Linked DNA regions of Homo sapiens. The protein of the gene in region 1 interacts with the protein of each later gene in a biochemical or structural test. Each region holds a gene or a part of one and is shown in the gene's direction. Other genes may lie near its edges.

The links.
Region 2: the proteins of NR0B1 (region 1) and NR1I3 form a complex in vitro, tested with the Homo sapiens proteins (one study listed by BioGRID).
Region 3: the proteins of NR0B1 (region 1) and NRIP1 form a complex in vitro, tested with the Homo sapiens proteins (one study listed by BioGRID).

Annotation. Positions count from the first base shown.
Region 1 is NC_000023.11:30,306,568-30,310,774, reverse strand, and holds the start of NR0B1 (nuclear receptor subfamily 0 group B member 1), read left to right. Parts: upstream 1-1,384; 5' UTR 1,385-1,411; coding exon 1,412-2,579; intron 2,580-4,207. UniProt on the Homo sapiens protein: Nuclear receptor that lacks a DNA-binding domain and acts as a corepressor that inhibits the transcriptional activity of other nuclear receptors through heterodimeric interactions.
Region 2 is NC_000001.11:161,232,187-161,235,356, reverse strand, and holds part of NR1I3 (nuclear receptor subfamily 1 group I member 3), read left to right. Parts: intron 1-2,018; coding exon 2,019-2,188; intron 2,189-2,410; coding exon 2,411-2,550; intron 2,551-3,170. UniProt on the Homo sapiens protein: Binds and transactivates the retinoic acid response elements that control expression of the retinoic acid receptor beta 2 and alcohol dehydrogenase 3 genes.
Region 3 is NC_000021.9:14,963,848-14,967,500, reverse strand, and holds part of NRIP1 (nuclear receptor-interacting protein 1), read left to right. Parts: coding exon 1-2,785; 3' UTR 2,786-3,653. UniProt on the Homo sapiens protein: Modulates transcriptional activation by steroid receptors such as NR3C1, NR3C2 and ESR1. Also modulates transcriptional repression by nuclear hormone receptors.

The DNA of each region.
Region 1 (4,207 bases):
AGGAAGGAAGGAAGGAAAAGAAACAGCAAAAAAAGAAAGAGGGAGGATGGGAGGGAGGGAAAAAGTAAAAATGATTCTGTATCAGCTGGTATATACCAACACCCTTCCCTGCCCCATGTCTTCACAGCTGTGTGGCAAGTGAAGACTAATGGATCCAGGCTTCCTGATGCTTCTATTTATCATTATTCACTTAGGAAGGGTGGGAAAAGAAATACTAATTACACACTTACCAATGGAATACTTTTACAAGGATCAAAATTTCTCACTGCGGCCATGAAAAAGAATGAGAGCTGGCGGCCATCATGCTTAGCAAAGTAATGCAGGAACAGAAAACCAAATATCACATGTTCTCACTTGCAAGTGGGAGCTAAATAAAGAGATCACCTGGACACTAGGAGGGGAACAACAGACACTGGAACCTACTTGAAGGTGGAGGGTGGGAAGAGGGAGAGAATGAGAAAAAATACCTATTGGATACTATTACCTGGGTGATGAAATAATCTGTACACCAAACCCCCACGACAAGCAATTCACTTATATAACAAACCCGCACATGTACTCCTGAACCTAAAAGTTAAAAGAAAAAAAAATATATACTAAAATGAAAACAATTCTCACTGTAACAATATTATCCCCTCGTAATTATTATATTCCTAAGTTTTAGGCACTTTTACATCCTGCTCGCTGCCCCCAGCTCTCTTAACACAGCATCCAGGACATAGTGGGCGCTTATAAATACTGATGGCATTAAACTGAGCGCTTATGATAGCATATTTAGAGCAGTGCTTTTCAAACGTCTAGGTGCATGTGAATCCCTGGGGACACCGTTAAAATGCAGATTCAGAGTTAGAAAGTCTGGTTGGAGCCTGAGATTGGGCATTTCCACCGAGTTCCCATATGATGCTTGTCTATGTTCTGTATTTTTCAAGGTCTCAGAAAATGAGACCTCCCTATCCATATACAAATATAAGTCACACAAACTGTGATAATTTAATGAAAGTTTACAAAGAGCATAGAAGTAGATGTTTCCTCTTTTCCCCTGCCCTCCCAATAAAGGGAACAAATTAGATGCGAGGGTTCAATGGAAAGAGTTGCAACAGCATCCAGGCGCTCGCTCTCCTCCGGTCTTCCTGAGACAGGGAAAGGGGTAATGAGAGGAAGGAGGAAAGTGTCCAGGAGCTCCCACGCTGCTGTTCTTCCATTTCCAGCTTTTAAAGAGCACCCGCCCCTTCGAACCACCGAGGTCATGGGCGAACACACCGGAGCGCAGCACCGCGCCCCCCCGCACACACCGCCCGCCTCCGCGCCCTTGCCCAGACCGAGGCGGCCGACGCGCCTGCGTGCGCGCTAGGTATAAATAGGTCCCAGGAGGCAGCCACTGGGCAGAACTGGGCTACGGGCGCCGCGGGCCATGGCGGGCGAGAACCACCAGTGGCAGGGCAGCATCCTCTACAACATGCTTATGAGCGCGAAGCAAACGCGCGCGGCTCCTGAGGCTCCAGAGACGCGGCTGGTGGATCAGTGCTGGGGCTGTTCGTGCGGCGATGAGCCCGGGGTGGGCAGAGAGGGGCTGCTGGGCGGGCGGAACGTGGCGCTCCTGTACCGCTGCTGCTTTTGCGGTAAAGACCACCCACGGCAGGGCAGCATCCTCTACAGCATGCTGACGAGCGCAAAGCAAACGTACGCGGCACCGAAGGCGCCCGAGGCGACGCTGGGTCCGTGCTGGGGCTGTTCGTGCGGCTCTGATCCCGGGGTGGGCAGAGCGGGGCTTCCGGGTGGGCGGCCCGTGGCACTCCTGTACCGCTGCTGCTTTTGTGGTGAAGACCACCCGCGGCAGGGCAGCATCCTCTACAGCTTGCTCACTAGCTCAAAGCAAACGCACGTGGCTCCGGCAGCGCCCGAGGCACGGCCAGGGGGCGCGTGGTGGGACCGCTCCTACTTCGCGCAGAGGCCAGGGGGTAAAGAGGCGCTACCAGGCGGGCGGGCCACGGCGCTTCTGTACCGCTGCTGCTTTTGCGGTGAAGACCACCCGCAGCAGGGCAGCACCCTCTACTGCGTGCCCACGAGCACAAATCAAGCGCAGGCGGCTCCGGAGGAGCGGCCGAGGGCCCCCTGGTGGGACACCTCCTCTGGTGCGCTGCGGCCGGTGGCGCTCAAGAGTCCACAGGTGGTCTGCGAGGCAGCCTCAGCGGGCCTGTTGAAGACGCTGCGCTTCGTCAAGTACTTGCCCTGCTTCCAGGTGCTGCCCCTGGACCAGCAGCTGGTGCTGGTGCGCAACTGCTGGGCGTCCCTGCTCATGCTTGAGCTGGCCCAGGACCGCTTGCAGTTCGAGACTGTGGAAGTCTCGGAGCCCAGCATGCTGCAGAAGATCCTCACCACCAGGCGGCGGGAGACCGGGGGCAACGAGCCACTGCCCGTGCCCACGCTGCAGCACCATTTGGCACCGCCGGCGGAGGCCAGGAAGGTGCCCTCCGCCTCCCAGGTCCAAGCCATCAAGTGCTTTCTTTCCAAATGCTGGAGTCTGAACATCAGTACCAAGGAGTACGCCTACCTCAAGGGGACCGTGCTCTTTAACCCGGGTAAGGGTACTGGCCTTAGGCGCCGGCTTTTCCCAGCTCACAAAAGCATCGGGCAGTGCCTATCTAGGGGCGCGGGCAGTAACGAGTTTTCAGTGATCAGGAGAGTGTCGGGGCAAAGGTGAAGAAATCGTGACTAACTCAGCAGAGTTGGGGTGGGGAGCTCCAGGAACCACTTCTGCTGGGTGGGCTGCTATCAGAAACTCAGCCAAGAGGAGGGGAGTTGTTTGTTTAGGTTTGTACTTGGCTCTCTACACATTTCTTACCATAGAAAAGTTTGTGCCTTCATGGGAAATGGTTATTCTTTCTTCTTTAGCTTTCTTTTAAGTCCAGAGCATATCTTTTTCTAAAAAAAGTTTTTGCTCACTGAAGATTCTGCAACATCGATTTCTGAAACCCCATTCTGAAATTTACTAGAACCTTTTTTGGGGGGAGGAAATCTATTAAGGCTAGCAAAAAAGGAAACATTTGTTAAAGGGTCCCATAGAGAGACTATTCCCTAGGGACACACAAGACACTAGATGTAGTGTTTCATGGGCCTGCCTCTGAATGGTTATTTGTATGGTCCTAAGCATCTGGACTATCCCTTCCTCCAAATCTCTGTGAATAATATCAGGTTGGCAAAGGGATAGGGAAAAAAGACACATTAGGGACTGAGAGCAGGAGCACTGTATTTTAGAATTCAAAGAGACTTTAGAGACCTGCTAATCAACCCCCTTTGCTCTGTAGCCTCCCCCCACCCCATTTTACTGAGTAGGTAGATGTGTCCCAAGGTCCCAAGTAAATGGTTGGTGTGTTGTGGCACCTGAGGGTCCTGTCTTCTGGGCCCAGTGGGATATTGGCTGCACTAAACTTTCAGGTTGTCTGTTGGGTGCTGGACACACTGTCCCACAGAGTGCAACCAAATCACTGGAGGAACGTCTCCCTGGACAGCCAGGCACCTTGTCTTGGGTGTTTCTCACTATTAGAATCATCTTCAACCAGCGTCCTTTCAAAATGATTGAAGTGGGAACAAAATTTTCCAGGCAACTTGAGTTGGGATAGTTTTTATAATGCTCCTTTTGTATCTTTTTTCCCTGGTGCTGGAATCTCTGATTAAGTCCCTGCCCCCTGCCTAGCATTTTTGAGGGTGCATAGATCAGTATTTGGTGGGATAATAATTTGTTCAAACCTCACGTTTCATGACGTAGAGACCTCAGCTCACCCCAGTGTCTATTATATGTTACCTTTTTGCTTATACCATTGTTTTCCAAACTTGCCTGTGCATAAGAAGTACTTGTGTGTGTGTGGTTGGGGGTGGGAGGGAGTAGATAAAAGTCTTTCTAGGCTCCTGCCTTATATATTCTGATTCAGTAGCTCTGGCCCAGGGTCTGCAAATCTGCATTCATAATAAGTGTCGCAGATGATTCTTAAGATTATTTGGAAAACAGTCTTCTTATTCCTTCAGCCAGTGTTACTAATCATCCACTATGTTCCTCGTCCTGTTGGGATATAAAGGTGAGAGGGGCTCAGCTTCCAGAAATTTACATTCCATTAGTTTCAGTATCAACAGTTTCCCTTGACTCTGTTTTATATACTTTTAACACACACACACACACACACACACACACACACACACACATTCTTCCTTA
Region 2 (3,170 bases), on another chromosome or scaffold:
GGAGGCGGAGCTTGCAGTGAGCCGAGATCGCGCCACTGCACTCCAGCCTGGGTGACAGAGCCAGATTCCGACTCAAAAAAAAAAAAAAAAAAAAAAAAAACACCAAGCGCACTCTTCCCCAAGGCTTTTCCACTTGCCATTTCCTCTACCTGAAATGCTTTTCTCCTAGATAGCCACATGGCTAGTCTTGTCTTTTCTTTTCTTTCTATTTTTTTTGATAGAGTCTCATACTCTGTTGCCCAGGCTGGAGTGCAGTGGCGCCATCTCGGCTCACTGCAACCTCCGCCTCCTGCGTTCAAGTGATTCTCCTGCCTCAGCCTCCTGCATAGCTGGGATTACAGGCATGTGCCACCACACCCAGCTAATTTTTTGTATTTTTAGTAGAGATGAGCTTTCACCATGTTGACCACGCTGGTCTCAAACTCCTGGCCTCAGGCGATCTGCCCACCTCCGCCTCCCAAAGTGCTCAGATTACAGGTGTGTTTTTTATTTTCTATCTGTTGAGTATAGTGCCTGTCACCTAGTAGGTGCTCAATAACTTAATTAATGCTTTCTCTGTGCCAGGTAACTGTGCTATGCTCCCAAAGGAGGATGTAACTGGGGCTCACGGAAGTTAATTTGCCCAAGTTAATTCAACTAAAAACTTGTGCAGGCCGAGCACGGTGGCTCACACCTCTAATCCCAGCACTTTGGAAGGCTGAGACAAGAGGATTGTTGAGGTCAGGAATTCAAGACCAGCCTGGTCAACAGAGTGAGATGTCCTCTCTAGGAAAAGAAGAAGGAAGAAGAAGTTGTACAGTCAGTATTCAAACTCAAGTTTACCTGACTCCCAAACTCTTGCTTTTTCCATATCACACGATTCTCACTATGGAAGAATGAAAGGAAACTGTAGAAGTCAAAGGATCTTGGTCTGAATTCAAGATCTTGGTTTGATCTTGGATCTTTTGCAGAAGTCAAAAGATTTTGGTTTGAATTCAATCTATATTACTTATTTTGTGACCTTGGTTCTGTCACCAGAATCTAAGCCTGTCCACATTTCTAAAAAATGTGATTGGGCTGGGTGCAGTGGCTCACGCCTGTAATCCCAGCACTTTGGGAGGCCGAGGTGAGTGGATCACTTGAGGTCAGGAGTTCGAGACCAGCCTGGCCAACATGGTGAAACCCCGTCTCTACTAAAAATACAAAAAAAAAAAAAAATTAGCAGGGCGTGATGGTGGGTGCCTGTAATCCCAGCTAGTCAGGAGGCTGAGGCAGGGAGAATTGCTTGAACCCAGGGGGCAGAGGTTGCAGTGAGCCGAGATTGCTCCATTGCACTCCAGCCTGGGCGACAGAGTGACAGACTCCATCTCAAAACAAAACAAAACAAACAAAAAAATATATATATACACATATATATACACATATATACACATATATACATGTATACACATATATATACATATATACACATATATATACACACACATATACACACACACACACACACACACACACACACACACACACACACACACACACATATATATATGATGAATACCAGCCCTGCCTATCCTGGGGTTGTTTCATTCAGTGGGATTTAACCTCAGAAGTTTTGAAATTTTGCTAAAACATCAGATAAAGGTTTATTTGAAAGGATTATTTGATTATTTTTGAAGGATTATTTGAAAACATCATATAAAGTGATGTTCTAGGTATGAAGACCCCTCCCTCTACACTGTTTCCCCAAAAGCCCTCGCACCTTTCCTCACATCTTTCATACTTTCCTCGCCACCCTTCCCTTCTCCCCCACAGTGCAGTTTTCTGCTGCAGTTCTTCACAGGTTGGTGGAAGTGTATAGGAGCCCCCTGCCTCCTGGAGCCTCTAGGACTTTAGCCAAGCCCAAGAAAGTCTCAGGAATTCCCCCCACTGCCCCCATCCTTCGTTGTGCAGGGCAGCTGAGGGGCCCCAGATCAGGGACCAGCAGAGAGAAATGCTCTGCTGGTCTCAACAGCTTTGTCATGATCTCTTGCCTGGCACAGTGATACTGTCGGCAGAAGCCCTGGCATTGCGGCGAGCAAAGCAGGCCCAGCGGCGGGCACAGCAAACACCTGTGCAACTGAGTAAGGAGCAAGAAGAGCTGATCCGGACACTCCTGGGGGCCCACACCCGCCACATGGGCACCATGTTTGAACAGTTTGTGCAGTTTAGGGTGAGCACCGACAGGATTTGGGTTGGAATACAACTAAAAGGGCACCCAAAAATGCTGGTCTGAAGGAGAGGGGTGTATGCCATGCACTGATACTGAGAACAGATCTCCAGAACCCCAGCCTGAGCAGGCTTCTCAGCAAGGAACTCTTCCAAGATAAGGCTGGCGAGGCCTAAAGGAGGGCCCTAGGGCCAGAGCCTCTAGCTAATGTTCTGATCATTGCAGCCTCCAGCTCATCTGTTCATCCATCACCAGCCCTTGCCCACCCTGGCCCCTGTGCTGCCTCTGGTCACACACTTCGCAGACATCAACACTTTCATGGTACTGCAAGTCATCAAGTTTACTAAGGACCTGCCCGTCTTCCGGTGAGTGACCTCCCCTCATCTTTCAGGAGGCAAACACTTCAGTAAATTGTATATCCACCCCGAAAAGTCACTGACTACAAATTATCACATGCGTCAGCCTTTCCAAGCATTAGGTCTTGAATTCCCAGCTTTGGTTTTAAATGTGCCAATCAGAACTGGGAGTTCTTCTCCATCTCTGAAGTACAGGCTTGCATCTAAAGTGCCCTTGAGGTGCCGCGCAGTGGCTCACACTAGTAATCCCAGCACTTTGGGAGGCGGAGGCTGGCAGATCGCTTGAGTCCAGAAGTTTGAGACCAGCCTCAGCAACATGACAAAACCCCAACTCTACAAAAAATACAAAAATTAGCTGGGCATGATGGTGGGTGCCTGTAGTCCCAGGTACTCAGGAAGCTGAAGTGGGAGGATCACTTGAGCCCAGGAGGTTGAGGCTGCAGTGAGCTCAGATAGCACCGCTGCATTCCAGCCTGGGTGACAGAGTGAGACTCTGTCTCAAAAAATGAAAGCTAAAAATAATAATAATAGGCCAGGCACGGTGGCTCATGCCTGTAATCCCAGCACTTTGAGAGGCCAAGGTGGGTGGATCACTTGAGCTCAGGAATTTGAGACCAGCCTGGCCAACA
Region 3 (3,653 bases), on another chromosome or scaffold:
TGAACCGTTGTCATGTGCTGCAAGATTACAGGCTGTTGCAAGCATGGTGGAAAAAAGGGCTAGTCCTGCCACCTCACCTAAACCTAGTGTTGCTTGTAGCCAGTTAGCATTACTTCTGTCAAGCGAAGCCCATTTGCAGCAGTATTCTCGAGAACACGCTTTAAAAACGCAAAATGCAAATCAAGCAGCAAGTGAAAGACTTGCTGCTATGGCCAGATTGCAAGAAAATGGCCAGAAGGATGTTGGCAGTTACCAGCTCCCAAAAGGAATGTCAAGCCATCTTAATGGTCAGGCAAGAACATCATCAAGCAAACTGATGGCTAGCAAAAGTAGTGCTACAGTGTTTCAAAATCCAATGGGTATCATTCCTTCTTCCCCTAAAAATGCAGGTTATAAGAACTCACTGGAAAGAAACAATATAAAACAAGCTGCTAACAATAGTTTGCTTTTACATCTTCTTAAAAGCCAGACTATACCTAAGCCAATGAATGGACACAGTCACAGTGAGAGAGGAAGCATTTTTGAGGAAAGTAGTACACCTACAACTATTGATGAATATTCAGATAACAATCCTAGTTTTACAGATGACAGCAGTGGTGATGAAAGTTCTTATTCCAACTGTGTTCCCATAGACTTGTCTTGCAAACACCGAACTGAAAAATCAGAATCTGACCAACCTGTTTCCCTGGATAACTTCACTCAATCCTTGCTAAACACTTGGGATCCAAAAGTCCCAGATGTAGATATCAAAGAAGATCAAGATACCTCAAAGAATTCTAAGCTAAACTCACACCAGAAAGTAACACTTCTTCAATTGCTACTTGGCCATAAGAATGAAGAAAATGTAGAAAAAAACACCAGCCCTCAGGGAGTACACAATGATGTGAGCAAGTTCAATACACAAAATTATGCAAGGACTTCTGTGATAGAAAGCCCCAGTACAAATCGGACTACTCCAGTGAGCACTCCACCTTTACTTACATCAAGCAAAGCAGGGTCTCCCATCAATCTCTCTCAACACTCTCTGGTCATCAAATGGAATTCCCCACCATATGTCTGCAGTACTCAGTCTGAAAAGCTAACAAATACTGCATCTAACCACTCAATGGACCTTACAAAAAGCAAAGACCCACCAGGAGAGAAACCAGCCCAAAATGAAGGTGCACAGAACTCTGCAACGTTTAGTGCCAGTAAGCTGTTACAAAATTTAGCACAATGTGGAATGCAGTCATCCATGTCAGTGGAAGAGCAGAGACCCAGCAAACAGCTGTTAACTGGAAACACAGATAAACCGATAGGTATGATTGATAGATTAAATAGCCCTTTGCTCTCAAATAAAACAAATGCAGTTGAAGAAAATAAAGCATTTAGTAGTCAACCAACAGGTCCTGAACCAGGGCTTTCTGGTTCTGAAATAGAAAATCTGCTTGAAAGACGTACTGTCCTCCAGTTGCTCCTGGGGAACCCCAACAAAGGGAAGAGTGAAAAAAAAGAGAAAACTCCCTTAAGAGATGAAAGTACTCAGGAACACTCAGAGAGAGCTTTAAGTGAACAAATACTGATGGTGAAAATAAAATCTGAGCCTTGTGATGACTTACAAATTCCTAACACAAATGTGCACTTGAGCCATGATGCTAAGAGTGCCCCATTCTTGGGTATGGCTCCTGCTGTGCAGAGAAGCGCACCTGCCTTACCAGTGTCCGAAGACTTTAAATCGGAGCCTGTTTCACCTCAGGATTTTTCTTTCTCCAAGAATGGTCTGCTAAGTCGATTGCTAAGACAAAATCAAGATAGTTACCTGGCAGATGATTCAGACAGGAGTCACAGAAATAATGAAATGGCACTTCTAGAATCAAAGAATCTTTGCATGGTCCCTAAGAAAAGGAAGCTTTATACTGAGCCATTAGAAAATCCATTTAAAAAGATGAAAAACAACATTGTTGATGCTGCAAACAATCACAGTGCCCCAGAAGTACTGTATGGGTCCTTGCTTAACCAGGAAGAGCTGAAATTTAGCAGAAATGATCTTGAATTTAAATATCCTGCTGGTCATGGCTCAGCCAGCGAAAGTGAACACAGGAGTTGGGCCAGAGAGAGCAAAAGCTTTAATGTTCTGAAACAGCTGCTTCTCTCAGAAAACTGTGTGCGAGATTTGTCCCCGCACAGAAGTAACTCTGTGGCTGACAGTAAAAAGAAAGGACACAAAAATAATGTGACCAACAGCAAACCTGAATTTAGCATTTCTTCTTTAAATGGACTGATGTACAGTTCCACTCAGCCCAGCAGTTGCATGGATAACAGGACATTTTCATACCCAGGTGTAGTAAAAACTCCTGTGAGTCCTACTTTCCCTGAGCACTTGGGCTGTGCAGGGTCTAGACCAGAATCTGGGCTTTTGAATGGGTGTTCCATGCCCAGTGAGAAAGGACCCATTAAGTGGGTTATCACTGATGCGGAGAAGAATGAGTATGAAAAAGACTCTCCAAGATTGACCAAAACCAACCCAATACTATATTACATGCTTCAAAAAGGAGGCAATTCTGTTACCAGTCGAGAAACACAAGACAAGGACATTTGGAGGGAGGCTTCATCTGCTGAAAGTGTCTCACAGGTCACAGCCAAAGAAGAGTTACTTCCTACTGCAGAAACGAAAGCTTCTTTCTTTAATTTAAGAAGCCCTTACAATAGCCATATGGGAAATAATGCTTCTCGCCCACACAGCGCAAATGGAGAAGTTTATGGACTTCTGGGAAGCGTGCTAACGATAAAGAAAGAATCAGAATAAAATGTACCTGCCATCCAGTTTTGGATCTTTTTAAAACTAATGAGTATGAACTTGAGATCTGTATAAATAAGAGCATGATTTGAAAAAAAGCATGGTATAATTGAAACTTTTTTCATTTTGAAAAGTATTGGTTACTGGTGATGTTGAAATATGCATACTAATTTTTGCTTAACATTAGATGTCATGAGGAAACTACTGAACTAGCAATTGGTTGTTTAACACTTCTGTATGCATCAGATAACAACTGTGAGTAGCCTATGAATGAAATTCTTTTATAAATATTAGGCATAAATTAAAATGTAAAACTCCATTCATAGTGGATTAATGCATTTTGCTGCCTTTATTAGGGTACTTTATTTTGCTTTTCAGAAGTCAGCCTACATAACACATTTTTAAAGTCTAAACTGTTAAACAACTCTTTAAAGGATAATTATCCAATAAAAAAAAACCTAGTGCTGATTCACAGCTTATTATCCAATTCAAAAATAAATTAGAAAAATATATGCTTACATTTTTCACTTTTGCTAAAAAGAAAAAAAAAAGGTGTTTATTTTTAACTCTTGGAAGAGGTTTTGTGGTTCCCAATGTGTCTGTCCCACCCTGATCCTTTTCAATATATATTTCTTTAAACCTTGTGCTACTTAGTAAAAATTGATTACAATTGAGGGAAGTTTGATAGATCCTTTAAAAAAAAGGCAGATTTCCATTTTTTGTATTTTAACTACTTTACTAAATTAATACTCCTCCTTTTACAGAATTAGAAAAGTTAACATTTATCTTTAGGTGGTTTCCTGAAAAGTTGAATATTTAAGAAATTGTTTTTAACAGAAGCAAAATGGCTTTTCTTTGGACAGTTTTCACCATCTCT